Linked DNA regions of Homo sapiens. The protein of the gene in region 1 purifies or fractionates together with the protein of each later gene. This does not show direct contact. Each region holds a gene or a part of one and is shown in the gene's direction. Other genes may lie near its edges. The genes, in order: GCHFR, HBS1L and PUSL1.

What was found.
Region 2: the proteins of GCHFR (region 1) and HBS1L purify together in Homo sapiens (affinity purification with mass spectrometry; 2 studies listed by BioGRID and IntAct, with this or other methods). This does not show direct contact.
Region 3: the proteins of GCHFR (region 1) and PUSL1 purify together in Homo sapiens (affinity purification with mass spectrometry; 2 studies listed by BioGRID and IntAct, with this or other methods). This does not show direct contact.

The regions. Positions count from the first base shown.
Region 1 is NC_000015.10:40,762,479-40,766,225, forward strand, and holds the start of GCHFR (GTP cyclohydrolase 1 feedback regulatory protein), read left to right. Parts: upstream 1-1,589; 5' UTR 1,590-1,702; coding exon 1,703-1,738; intron 1,739-2,682; exon of another isoform or gene 2,683-3,348; coding exon 3,349-3,443; exon of another isoform or gene 3,444-3,747. UniProt on the Homo sapiens protein: Mediates tetrahydrobiopterin inhibition of GTP cyclohydrolase 1. This inhibition is reversed by L-phenylalanine.
Region 2 is NC_000006.12:134,981,817-134,985,463, reverse strand, and holds part of HBS1L (HBS1-like protein), read left to right. Parts: intron 1-54; coding exon 55-123; intron 124-2,901; coding exon 2,902-3,006; intron 3,007-3,647. UniProt on the Homo sapiens protein: GTPase component of the Pelota-HBS1L complex, a complex that recognizes stalled ribosomes and triggers the No-Go Decay (NGD) pathway.
Region 3 is NC_000001.11:1,306,983-1,310,729, forward strand, and holds the start of PUSL1 (tRNA pseudouridine synthase-like 1), read left to right. Parts: upstream 1-1,614; 5' UTR 1,615-1,661; coding exon 1,662-1,738; intron 1,739-1,932; coding exon 1,933-1,990; intron 1,991-2,103; coding exon 2,104-2,291; intron 2,292-2,471; coding exon 2,472-2,621; intron 2,622-2,698; coding exon 2,699-2,869; intron 2,870-3,651; coding exon 3,652-3,706; intron 3,707-3,747. Other genes in the region: ACAP3 (arf-GAP with coiled-coil, ANK repeat and PH domain-containing protein 3), read right to left, coding at 787-833.

The DNA.
Region 1 (3,747 bases):
AAGTTCTGGGATTAGCAGCGTGAGCCACCGCGCCCGGCCCTTTCGTCAGTTTTAACACATCCTTTGTTAAGCATGAATGTGTTTTATCTCTCTGGCTAACTTGTTAGGTCAGTGGGTAAGAGGGCAGGGGTAGGAACTACAGAATAATAAATTAGACCAGTTAAGGAACGTTTAGGATTACAACTTCCTGCTTCCCTTATAGCTCTCTCCACGTCTGTCAAAGTGTTGGAACGGCAGCATCCCCTATAAAGGCCCCTCTTAAAAAGTGAAGATTATTACCCTCCCATGGGAGGGAAGGCTACCTACAGGCTGTTTTTGTTTTGCTTTATTTTCTAGAAAACCAATCACAGGCCGGATGCGGTGGCTCACGCCTGTAATCCCAGCTCTTTGGGAGGCCAAGGCGGGTGGATCACCTGAGGTCGGGAGTTCGCCACCAGCCTGACCAAAATGGAGAAACGCCGTCTCTACTAAAAATACAAAATTAGCCGGGCGTCGTGGCGCAGGCCTGTAATCCCAGCTACTCAGGAGGCTGAGGCAGGATAATCGCTTGAACCTGGGAGGCGGAGATTGCGGTGAGCGGAGATCGCGCCATTGCGCTCCGGCCTGGACAATAAGAGCGAAACTCCATGTCCAAAAAAAAAAAAAAAAAAGAAAAGAAAAAAGAAAACCAATCACAACAAGGCAGATAAAGAAGGATGAGTTGTCAGATTTTGATAACTGCGGATGAGGGGCGTGGACACACGGTTGGGAACTCGCAGCCGCTCATTGGTGGCTGGTGCGGGGGAAGTTGTTTCATTTGCCCCAGGTGTTGCCCAGTGACCTCCTGCGCGTGCGCCGCGTCTGTCCAGCTGCGCGGGAAGCTCAGGGGAGGGAAGGCCAGGTTCCATCCATTCAGTCACTCCAGACCTGGCACCCAGCCAAGCGCGCGGTTCCTTTACAGACTTTCCTGCGGGTCCACAGAAATGCAAGGATCCGCCTCTGTGCTGGAATTAGAGTCTGGGAGGGGGAATGCACAGTGCGCCCTGGGTGGTATTTTAGTTGTCGCCTTCAGGGCTAGCTCCGAGCCTCGTGCCCCGGCCTCCTCAGCGCTTAAGGAATCTCTGGAGCGCATGTCTTGGCGAGGGGAAGTGGGGCCCCGTTGAAGCTGTCGAGGCGTCTCTGAGAGGGGTGGGCTGGGGCCTGGAGAGGCCTCCGTGAGGACGCCGTTTGCTCTGGGCTCTGCCTGGCAGGGGACTTTGGAACCTGGCCTGAAGTGTTCAAGAAGCGGGCGCGGGGGCAACACGCGCGCGGGGACGCAGTAAGATCACAGGCTGCAAAGAAAACAGCACTAAGCGTCCTGGAGGACGCTGGAGCTTCAGGATAGTGTCCTTCCAGGTCGTGGGACCGCCCCCTCCTCCCCGCACTCCACCTTCCCGCAACTGGATCACTCGGCGGAAGCCTCAGGTGGGCCCCGGGGTCCAAGTCCGCCGCCGGGAGGGCGGGGGCGGGCCCCGAACCGCCGACTGCAGGGCGCGTCACGGCAGCCGCTCCTGATTGGCGGCCACGGCGGTCACGGGCAAGGTGCCCCGGGATTGACGCCGCCTGTGGCCAGAGCCGGAGTAACGGGACTCCCAGCTGCGCGTCGCAGTCCCGACGCGAGAAGGGCTGGAGTCGGCGTCCAGCCTAGAGCCCCCGGTGGGAGCCAGGCCGGGACGCGTGCACCATGCCCTACCTGCTCATCAGCACCCAGATCCGCATGGTGAGTACCGGCCGCCTGGCGACTTGGAGCCGGGACCAGGCCCTAGGGGGCTGCGACTGCACCTTCATGCCTCCCTCCTGGGCTGCACCCACCGGGGACTGGACCGGGAACCCGCCCAGACACGCCCCCTTGGCCGGGGAGAGGGAGTGGAGAAGCGGGCTCAGCTCGGCTTCCGGGACTCAGCGAGCTCTGGCCGGCCTGAAGCCTTTATTGCCGCGAAGGGGCCCGGGTACGTGCGTCCCGGCAACAGGGCGACCTCCGGGCGCTTCCGGCTCCTGTCCTACCTGTCGGCGGGAGAGACCCAGGGAGCCCTGGCCTCACGCGCAGCACCTAGTGCCCTGCACAGAGCCGCTCCGCAGGGGAAAAAAGGGCGAATAACCTGAGAGAAAGAGGTTTGGAAAAGATAAGGACCTGCCAAGGCGCTAAAACCCCGGTGCCAAGTCCTTGACCCATAAACAGCAACTAGCTGCACCCTTAGGCACTTCCAGGAAGGGCTATCCCTGAAGCTTTAGGGAAGGAAGAAAAGAAAGAACACCCTGCTTGGAAAAAAGGAAGGCGAGAAGGGGCTGTGCAGTTAGAGGTGGGAACACCATGAGTTAGAAGTCACGTTCCTTTCTCTGGGCGCAGTTTCCTTATCTGTAAAAAGGTTCTGATTGCCCCTCAGGAGTCCCCTTTTAGCTTCAGAAAGACATGACGGGCAGCAAGGTGCTCTCTGCCCTTGCTCACTGCCCAGTGCTGGGGTGAACCAGCAAAGGGTACACAACCCCCTTGGTGGGTTCACCACGCAACAGAGAGCTCTTGCAGAGCCCTGGGCAGCGGTTTGTGAAGCAGCCATCTGCTCAGCTGCCAAAATGTGGATTCCTGGGTCCCTTCCCAGACCTCCTAAAACTCTGTCTGGGGCTTGGGAACCCATACTTGGAAATGGCCCCCCAAAGTGATTCTTATTTCTTAAAAGATATGGCTTTATTGATATGTAATGTGCATACCATAAATTCTTTGATTTAAAGTGTACAATTCAGTGTTGTTGTTTCTTTAGTGTACTCAGAGTTGTGCAACCATCACCATAATCAGTTTTAGAACATTTCTAATACCCCAAAAGGAAACCCTGTACCCACTGGCAGACACTCTTGATTTCCCCCAAGTCCCTCAGCCCTAGATAACCACTAATTACCTTTCTGTGGTAATGTGATCTGAGTCTGGCTTCTTTCATTTACATGTTTATTTTGTTTTGTTTTTTTGAAATGGAGTCTCACTCTGTCACCCAGGCTGGAGTGCAGTGGTGCAATCATGGCTCACTGCAGCCTCAAACTCCTCCCACCTCAAGCGATCCTCCCACCTCAGCCTCAGTAGCTGGAACTATAGGCTCGTGATACTTTGCCTGGCTAAAGCTGAGCTTTAAGGCACTAGGGAGGGCGCCTACATTGCTCCTCCTGATCATTGATGGGCTCCACCCCTTCACAGCTTGTGCTCAGCCCCTAAGAATCCTTGCTACTCTCTGTAGCCTTTACCTGAACCTTACTCAGGGCTAGCAGGCAGGGGAGGAAGGACAGGCAAGACCTTCCACCTCCTCCTGGCAGCCAGCCAAGCAGCCACTGTGGCTTACCTTGCAGGAGGTGGGCCCCACTATGGTGGGCGATGAACAGTCGGATCCAGAGCTGATGCAGCATCTGGGGGCTTCAAAGAGAAGAGCCTTGGGAAACAACTTGTAAGTAGCAGCCTCCCTCAGTATCCTCTCCCTGCCAGCCCCTAGACCTGCCTCTGCTCCCTTTATACAACCTCCAAGCCCAGGGACAGGGCCCAGCATCAGAGCCCCCTGCCTGCATCCTGGGGCTCTGTTCTCCGGAGGAGTTGGTCCCATCTGTAGCCTCTCCAACATCCCCCCTCTCCCCCACGAGGCTTGCTCTGAAAGCTTTCCACATCCTTACTGGAACCGCAGAAACAGAGTCCGTTCCCTGGGTCTAGGACTCCACTAGCAGACTGTTCCTTGCCCTGCCCTCTCCTAAGCTGGA
Region 2 (3,647 bases), on another chromosome or scaffold:
GTCAAAAATTTAATTTTAAATTAAACCTTGCCTTTTGCAATTTCTTTTTTCCAGATTCCTTTAAGCCTCCCCAGCGATCTATTGACAAACCTTTTAGATTATGTGTGTCCGATGTTTTCAAAGGTAAGTGCTACCTTTGTAGTGCTTCTTCAGTATAGCCCCTTTTCCCCATTCCCTCCTAACCTCCTTTCCTGGACTAAGTTATGACAGTATATTGCCTTCAGAGTCTCTCCTCTCCATGCCCAAGTAAGGATCACTGTCAGATTAATCTTAAAATGCACAGATTTAGTCACTTAGCTTCCCTGTCCAGGAAAACCTTCAGTTTACTCACCATTTCTCATCTTTCAAGCATAAGAAAACCTTGCCTTTTGTCTTTCTAACTTTATAGTTTTTTTTTCTCCCATTAGATTCCTTTAGTTTTCAAATCCTTCAACCAAACTGGATTGTTTATTGTTTCTTAACCACACAGGATGTGTTTATTGCCACATGTCTACCCGTGCTTCCCTGTTGTATTGTTCTTTCTCTTTACTTGTCCATTTCCTCCCCATCTGTAACAGTCTGGGTCCAGTTAGGAGTTAGATACCATACATAGGTGAAATGGGAAATGTAATATAAAGAATTATTAACTATGATAAAAATGCAACTAAAAGATATACAGAAACTTTATAGATAGGGCTGAGGAAGGACCAACGTAGAAGAGGTTCAGAGCTTGCTGGAAGAGATGATATATTAAATACCTAAGAATATATCTAACTTAATAAGGGCAAGATCCTATATAGAAGACTATAAAGTGGAAATACAATTTAAAAACTCAATAAATAAAAGGATATAAGATTTATTATTACAATAATAAAAACTGTAAGGATGTCATTTGTCCTCTAAATCTCCATTGTCACAGAGCCAGCAATGCAGAGTGAATGTGGAACTGAGCAGCAGTAAATTGGTAACCGGCGTGCTTACCTGCGCACATGCCCTGACGCGTCCCTCTGTATTCTCTGTATCCTCTGTCATTGTGCTTTCATGCAGCATTATAATTTTTTCTATGCTGTCTGTTTATCCCACTTAGATTATGAACTCCTTGAAGGCAAGTACTATCTCTTCTTTATCTATATCTGCGGCCCTAGCCCAGTGCCTGGCACATAATACATTTAACACATGAATAAAAAAATGAATGAATGAAGGTGCTTTGAAAAAATCATGCAATGAAATCAAAATTTATCATTATCATTATTAGCTTCCAGTGTTCTAGTAATAGAGGAAATATGCTAATAGTTTCCAAGATGCCCATTGTTTATCAAGAATACAAGAGGTGGTTACTTTTCTTTGATTAACAGTGTTTGCTGACTGTACTTTCTCACCTTCTGTTCCCCCTTCAGGCTGCTTCCTGGCTTCCGCCTACGCTGCTCTCCTGAGTGTGTTCCTCCTGAGGTCATGAAATGACCTCTTGGTTGCCAAAGTCAATATACACTTTCAATTCTATCTTACTTGAATTTGGCATTGGTTCTGATGCTGGTAGCCACATCCACCTTGAAACTCCTCCCTTGGTTTCTGTGACCTGCTTTCTCCTGTTAACCTGTCTATTTCTCTGACCTGTCTATCTCTGACCTCTCTATATCTTCTCTATGGGCTCCTCATTCTCTGTCTTTTAAACAGTGTTCTGCTGCCTCAGTCCTCTTCTTAGTCTTCAAGTTCCTTTTGAACTGACATCCATGAGTGTCTCTACCTTCTGCATCTTGATGCTTCCCAAATCTGTATCTCCAACCCAAACCTTTTCACTCATTCTCCACACACTTGTCTAAGCACTACTGGACATCTCTCCTGGGAGAGTGTTCTTTTAGGGGTACCATTCTCATGGAATGTGGTGTGATTGGTCCCCCCGGAATGCAACTTCTGCATGTGTGTGTCTCATAGACACTTCAGATTTACCAAGCCTAAAATGGATCTTGTCCTTAGTTTCATATCTCACAGTTAATGCATCATCATCTCACATTTTCCCCTTTCTGTCATTAGTCTTCACTTTCCTTACCACTCCAAACTTGTTATTCCTTATTCCCGAATTCTTGAGTTTATTCCCTTTCTGTAGTAAGTTTGTGCATTTGTATCAGCCTCTACTCTAAGACAGAAATACCATCACCTTACTTCTCCGGTCACAATATTTACTGGCTTCCTATTACTTAACTGCAGGATGAAATTTAAACCCTAAGCGTGATTTATGAGACCCCTTTATTATTTCTCCCTTGCCTATCTCTGTTGCCTCCTGTCTTACCTTTTCTTCATTATTCTATATGGTCCCCTCCCCATGGCCCCCACAAGTGACACATGACTCTTAGCCCATCCCACATTTGGTTATGCCTTTGCCCACACAGTTTCCTGGGGCAGCAGTGTCTTCCTTTTTCTCCCTACTCATGCATACAAGCTACCTAATAAACACTTATTCCTTCTTCAGAGTGCCAGATGTCTATTCTCACCATCATGGATTCTTTGGTGCACCTTTGTGTTTCTATTGTATATTTTACATATTATTTGTCTCAGGACAATGTAATTGTTTCCATCTTTCTCTTCACTAGTATAATATCTTTATGGGCAGGGACTTACATTTTTATTTTTTTTTATCCCCAGAGTTTAGTATAATATCTGGTACTACGTATTTATTATTTCTCAATAAATATTTGAGAAAGGAATGAACCTTTCTTTGGTAATATGAGTATTTTTATTTGCAAAAAAAAAAAGTAAAGTGTGGTATGCCATATTTAGTAGAGATGTTAATTCTGAAATGATTATTATTTAATGTCCATTGAACTACTAGTTTTATATGACTACTTGAGAACTAAGTATAGTTAACGGTATTAATCATCAGATAACATTGCTGTATGAACCATAAGATTTTGGTATGTTTTGCAGATCAAGGATCTGGATTTTGCATAACTGGTAAAATAGAAGCTGGTTATATCCAAACTGGTGACCGACTACTGGCAATGCCTCCTAATGAAACTTGTACCGTGAAAGGTATTTATCTGCAAGATGCTTTTGCTAAACAAGCCTTAAGTTGAGACAGCAGATTTTTAAAAAGTGGTTTAGTTACAACTCCAAAGTAAGTAACCTCTTACTGAAATTGTAACTGACTGTCAAAATGATACTGACTGTTGAAGATTAAAATGTGAAAACATTAAACGATTTTTTTCTGTTGTGATTGTGTCTGTATATATATGTACATAAACATTCTAACTGTAGTAGCATTCTATTTTTGACACAGATCTGAGAAGCCTGGTTAGGATTTAATCAGATATGTATAGATACCTCACAGATGTATTTGGAATAATATTCTGTAGCAGAAATTAAATCTAGTCCCAGCCTTACCCTAACTAGTCAGTGGCAAAGCAGCCTTCTACAGTCTGTTACTTTGAAATGTATGTTTCAGAATAACTATAAATTAACAGCTTTGATCATGTTTATGCCAAAAATGTAGGTATATTTTATAGGAAGATATAAGTAACATTCAAATGGAGAAAAACCCAATGTTGAAAAGAGAAATTGAACTAGTTTAAATTGCCAGTCACTGTTTCTGCATATAGATCTAATTTTTTTCATAATGACTGATAATTGTTTCTGTCTTCTAATATATACACACATATATATATTTATGTATA
Region 3 (3,747 bases), on another chromosome or scaffold:
CCGGAGGGAGGCACGCAGAGGGGCAAAGTTCACAAGAGCGCACCCCGCACGAGCTCGTGCAGAGGAGGGGGCCTCACGCAGGTGCGCACTTGGGGATGCAGAGAGGTTTCTTTGCCTCCATTGTCGTTTGCCAAATGTCCACCAAGCAAAGCCGATGCACACTTGTGCACACGTCTGTGAACATGTAGTTCACGCAGGTGTACACGCCTGCACGCCACGAATGATGGAAAACATGCAGACTCGGTGTGCACACAACCCCTACCCCCTACCTGACCTTCCCCGCCGCTCTTCTCGGCCGCCACCCCTCCAAGCCCCTGGGTCATTCAAACCACTTCACGTTTCCAAGCACCCTACCCCAGGCCTTAAACGCGGCTCCAGCTGCCTGTTCCCCACGCGCTGCTCTGGACACAGGATCAAGTCAGAGACCAGGGGCCGACGCCCCCACGGACCCAGACGACCCTGGCCAGAGCTGGACTGCAGGGCCCGGGAGGGGCTCAGCCCAGTGGAGGTGCAGACACAGAGCGGGGGCGGACGGTCCCGAGGTGCCCACGGCTGCCCACGCGCACGCCCTCCACCCGGGGCGGCCGCACAGGGCAGGAGCGTCTTTTGTTCCAACCCCCGGGGCATGGCGGGGCGGGGCCGCCGCTTTGTCCGAGGCCGGTCCTCCAGCCCCTCCCCGGCGGCCGCGGCCCGGCCCGGCGCTGACCTCCCCACCCCGCCGCCGGGCACAAAGGCGACAGCGACGCCCCCGGCCTGCGCCCACCCCGGCGGCCCCGGGCGGCGCACCTGAAGCGCGGGGAGTCCTTGACGCACTCCTCGAACTCCACGGTCATGGCTGCGGCGGCCGCGGCGCTCACTGGCACGAGGACCGCGGCGCCGAGCGGCAGCCGCGCCGGCCCGGACCGCTCGTCCCGCCCGCGCCGCCTCGGCGCCCGCCCGCCCCGGAATGAGGCCGCCGCGCCGCGCCCCGCCCCGCCTGTCACCGCCGGGGAGCGTCGCCAAAGTCAGCCGCCCGCGCGCACCGCCCGCTGTCACTGCCGGGGAGCGTCGCCAAGGTCCGCCGCCCGCGCGCGCCGCCCGCTGTCACCGCCGGGGAGCGTCGCCAAACGCCTCTCGCAGCGTCCAGGGACCACCCCGGTCCGGAAGTGAGGCGGGGCCTGCCACGGCCGTCTCCGGGGACAGTCGGTGGAAATGTGGGGCGCGGGGAGGGCGCGGGGAGGGCGCGGGCCCGCCCGCTCCAACCATCCCGGCCGTTGCGCAACTCAGGGCGTTTGCAAAAACCACGTCTGGGAGGACTTGGCCGCAACGCGGCGAACGGGCGCGCTCGGGGAGTGTGGGCGGCGGCGAATGAATGAGCGAGTGAACGAATGCACGCCCGCGAGAGCGCGGGGTGACCGCGTGGTTGGTGCGCGCCTCCCGGGGCGCCGCGATAGAGGTAGAGCGCCTGCGCTCGGCGGCGGGCCGGCACTTTGCAGCCGCTCCCTAAGCCCGGCCCCGCCTCCGCTCCCCGACTCTGGCCGCCGTGGCGCGGTGCCACCGCGCAGGCGCAAGAGCGGCCGGGGCCGGGGGGGAGGGGGGGGGGGCGTGACCAGGCCGCGTCCGCGCGCGCGCAGGATTCCTGCGCTGGAGGCCGCCTCTGACGCCACCGGCTGGGCTCCGCCATGAGTTCGGCGCCGGCCTCAGGCTCCGTGCGCGCGCGCTATCTTGTGTACTTCCAGTACGTGGGCACCGACTTTAAGTAGGTTTCCCAGGCGCAGCGGCGGGCGCCACGTGGGCCCGGGCGGAGGCGGGAAGGAGGGCGCGGGCGGGCAGGCGGATGTCTCTGGACGCGGGTTCCAAACGTTCGGGGAAGGAAGCGGCCCTGGCCTCAGACGGCGGCGGAGACCCCAGGGCAGGGCGCCCCCGGTAACCTCCGCCCGCTTCTGCCCGCAGCGGGGTCGCGGCCGTCAGGGGCACTCAGCGCGCCGTCGGGGTCCAGAACTACCTGGAGGTGCGCTCAGCCGGTCACGGGACGCCCGGTGAGGGGTAAGGGGGAGGCTCCCGCCCGCGCGTCCCCGGGGTCCGGCCTCGCTCACCCGCCCGCCCCGCGGCTCGGTCCTGCAGGAGGCCGCCGAGCGGCTGAATTCCGTGGAGCCGGTCAGGTTCACCATCTCCAGCCGCACGGACGCCGGGGTCCACGCCCTGAGCAACGCGGCGCACCTGGACGTCCAGCGCCGCTCAGGCCGGCCGCCCTTCCCGCCCGAGGTCCTGGCCGAGGCCCTCAACACACACCTGCGGCACCCGGCCATCAGGTGAGCCCGCGACCTAAGCAGCCCTGGGGCTGTGCCTTCCCGACTCCATCTGTCGCGGGCGGAGGCTGGAGATCTGGACAGACTTCCTTGTCTGGTCGGAGCTCGAGGGGGAAGGAGAGCCAATGTGACACCGCGGGCGGGCGGGGTCGTTCCTCCGGTGAGCTTTACCTGCCGCCATAGGGTCCTGCGGGCCTTCCGAGTGCCCAGCGACTTCCACGCTCGTCACGCAGCCACGTCCCGGACCTACCTGTACCGCCTGGCCACTGGCTGTCACCGGCGTGATGAGCTGCCGGTGTTTGAACGCAACCTATGCTGGACTCTCCCGGCAGAGTGAGTGTGGCCCTGACAGCGGGGAGGGGGCGGGCAGGCCGGCCCCACCCTCCTGACGGTCACCCTGGTCCCTGAAGCTGCCTGGATATGGTCGCCATGCAGGAAGCCGCCCAGCACCTCCTCGGCACACACGACTTCAGCGCCTTCCAGTCCGCTGGCAGCCCGGTGCCGAGCCCCGTGCGAACGCTGCGCCGGGTCTCCGTTTCCCCAGGCCAAGCCAGCCCCTTGGTCACCCCCGAGGAGAGCAGGTGAGGAAGGGCCCCTGGGCTGTGGCCCTGCCCTCAAGTCACGTGCTGATTTTAGCTCCAGCACCTCCCCCAGTTTTAAGGCAAGGTGAGGCGGGAGGCAGGCAGCCGGGAGTCCTCAGGACCTGGACAGCTGGAGGGGATTCGCCCGGACGCCCCCCAGCCTCCAGCTGTGCCCTCCCCCCAGGCTGGGGAGCGGAGAACAGGGAAGGCTGCTTGTCTCTGAAAAACCCCTGCCATGCCTGATGGAAGAATGTTGGCAGCTACTGGAAAGGTCTCACTGGTGCCAGTGGTTCTGGTGGGGTGGTTTCTGCTGCCCCCAGCACTGTCCCGAGGGCCACCCACCAGGTGGCAGCTTCTGACCAGAACCTCCCCTATTGGGGTGAGCCCTGAAGGGGGGAAGAACTTCTGCCAGCCCCAGACTTCTGTGGCAGAGCAGCAGGTACAGGACTGGGGGTCTCTGGCACCCGCACCAGCCACGTTCCCAGACCCTGCACCAGGACCCTAGGTGAGGGCCCAGGGCAAGCCCCTCTGGGATGGCCAGGCTACCTGCCCAGCCTCCAGGGTCCTGCTGCCTCCTTGCCCAAGCATTGTTTCTCTGGTTTTAAGCCCCTCCAATGGGCCTCACTGGGGGCAGGAGATCAGCCAGGGCCCCTGGTGGCCAAGCTAGTGGGAACCAGGCTCGTCTTTAGGCCCACCCTGTCACTCTCCCGTCCAAGGCCACATAGTAGGCTGAGGATGGCAAACACTGCCCCACAGACACCTACAGGTACGTATTTTTCCAGGAAGCTGCGGTTCTGGAACCTGGAGTTTGAGAGCCAGTCTTTCCTGTATAGACAGGTAGGCTCTGTTCTGGGGCCGTCCCCAGGGGGTGGGGCTGA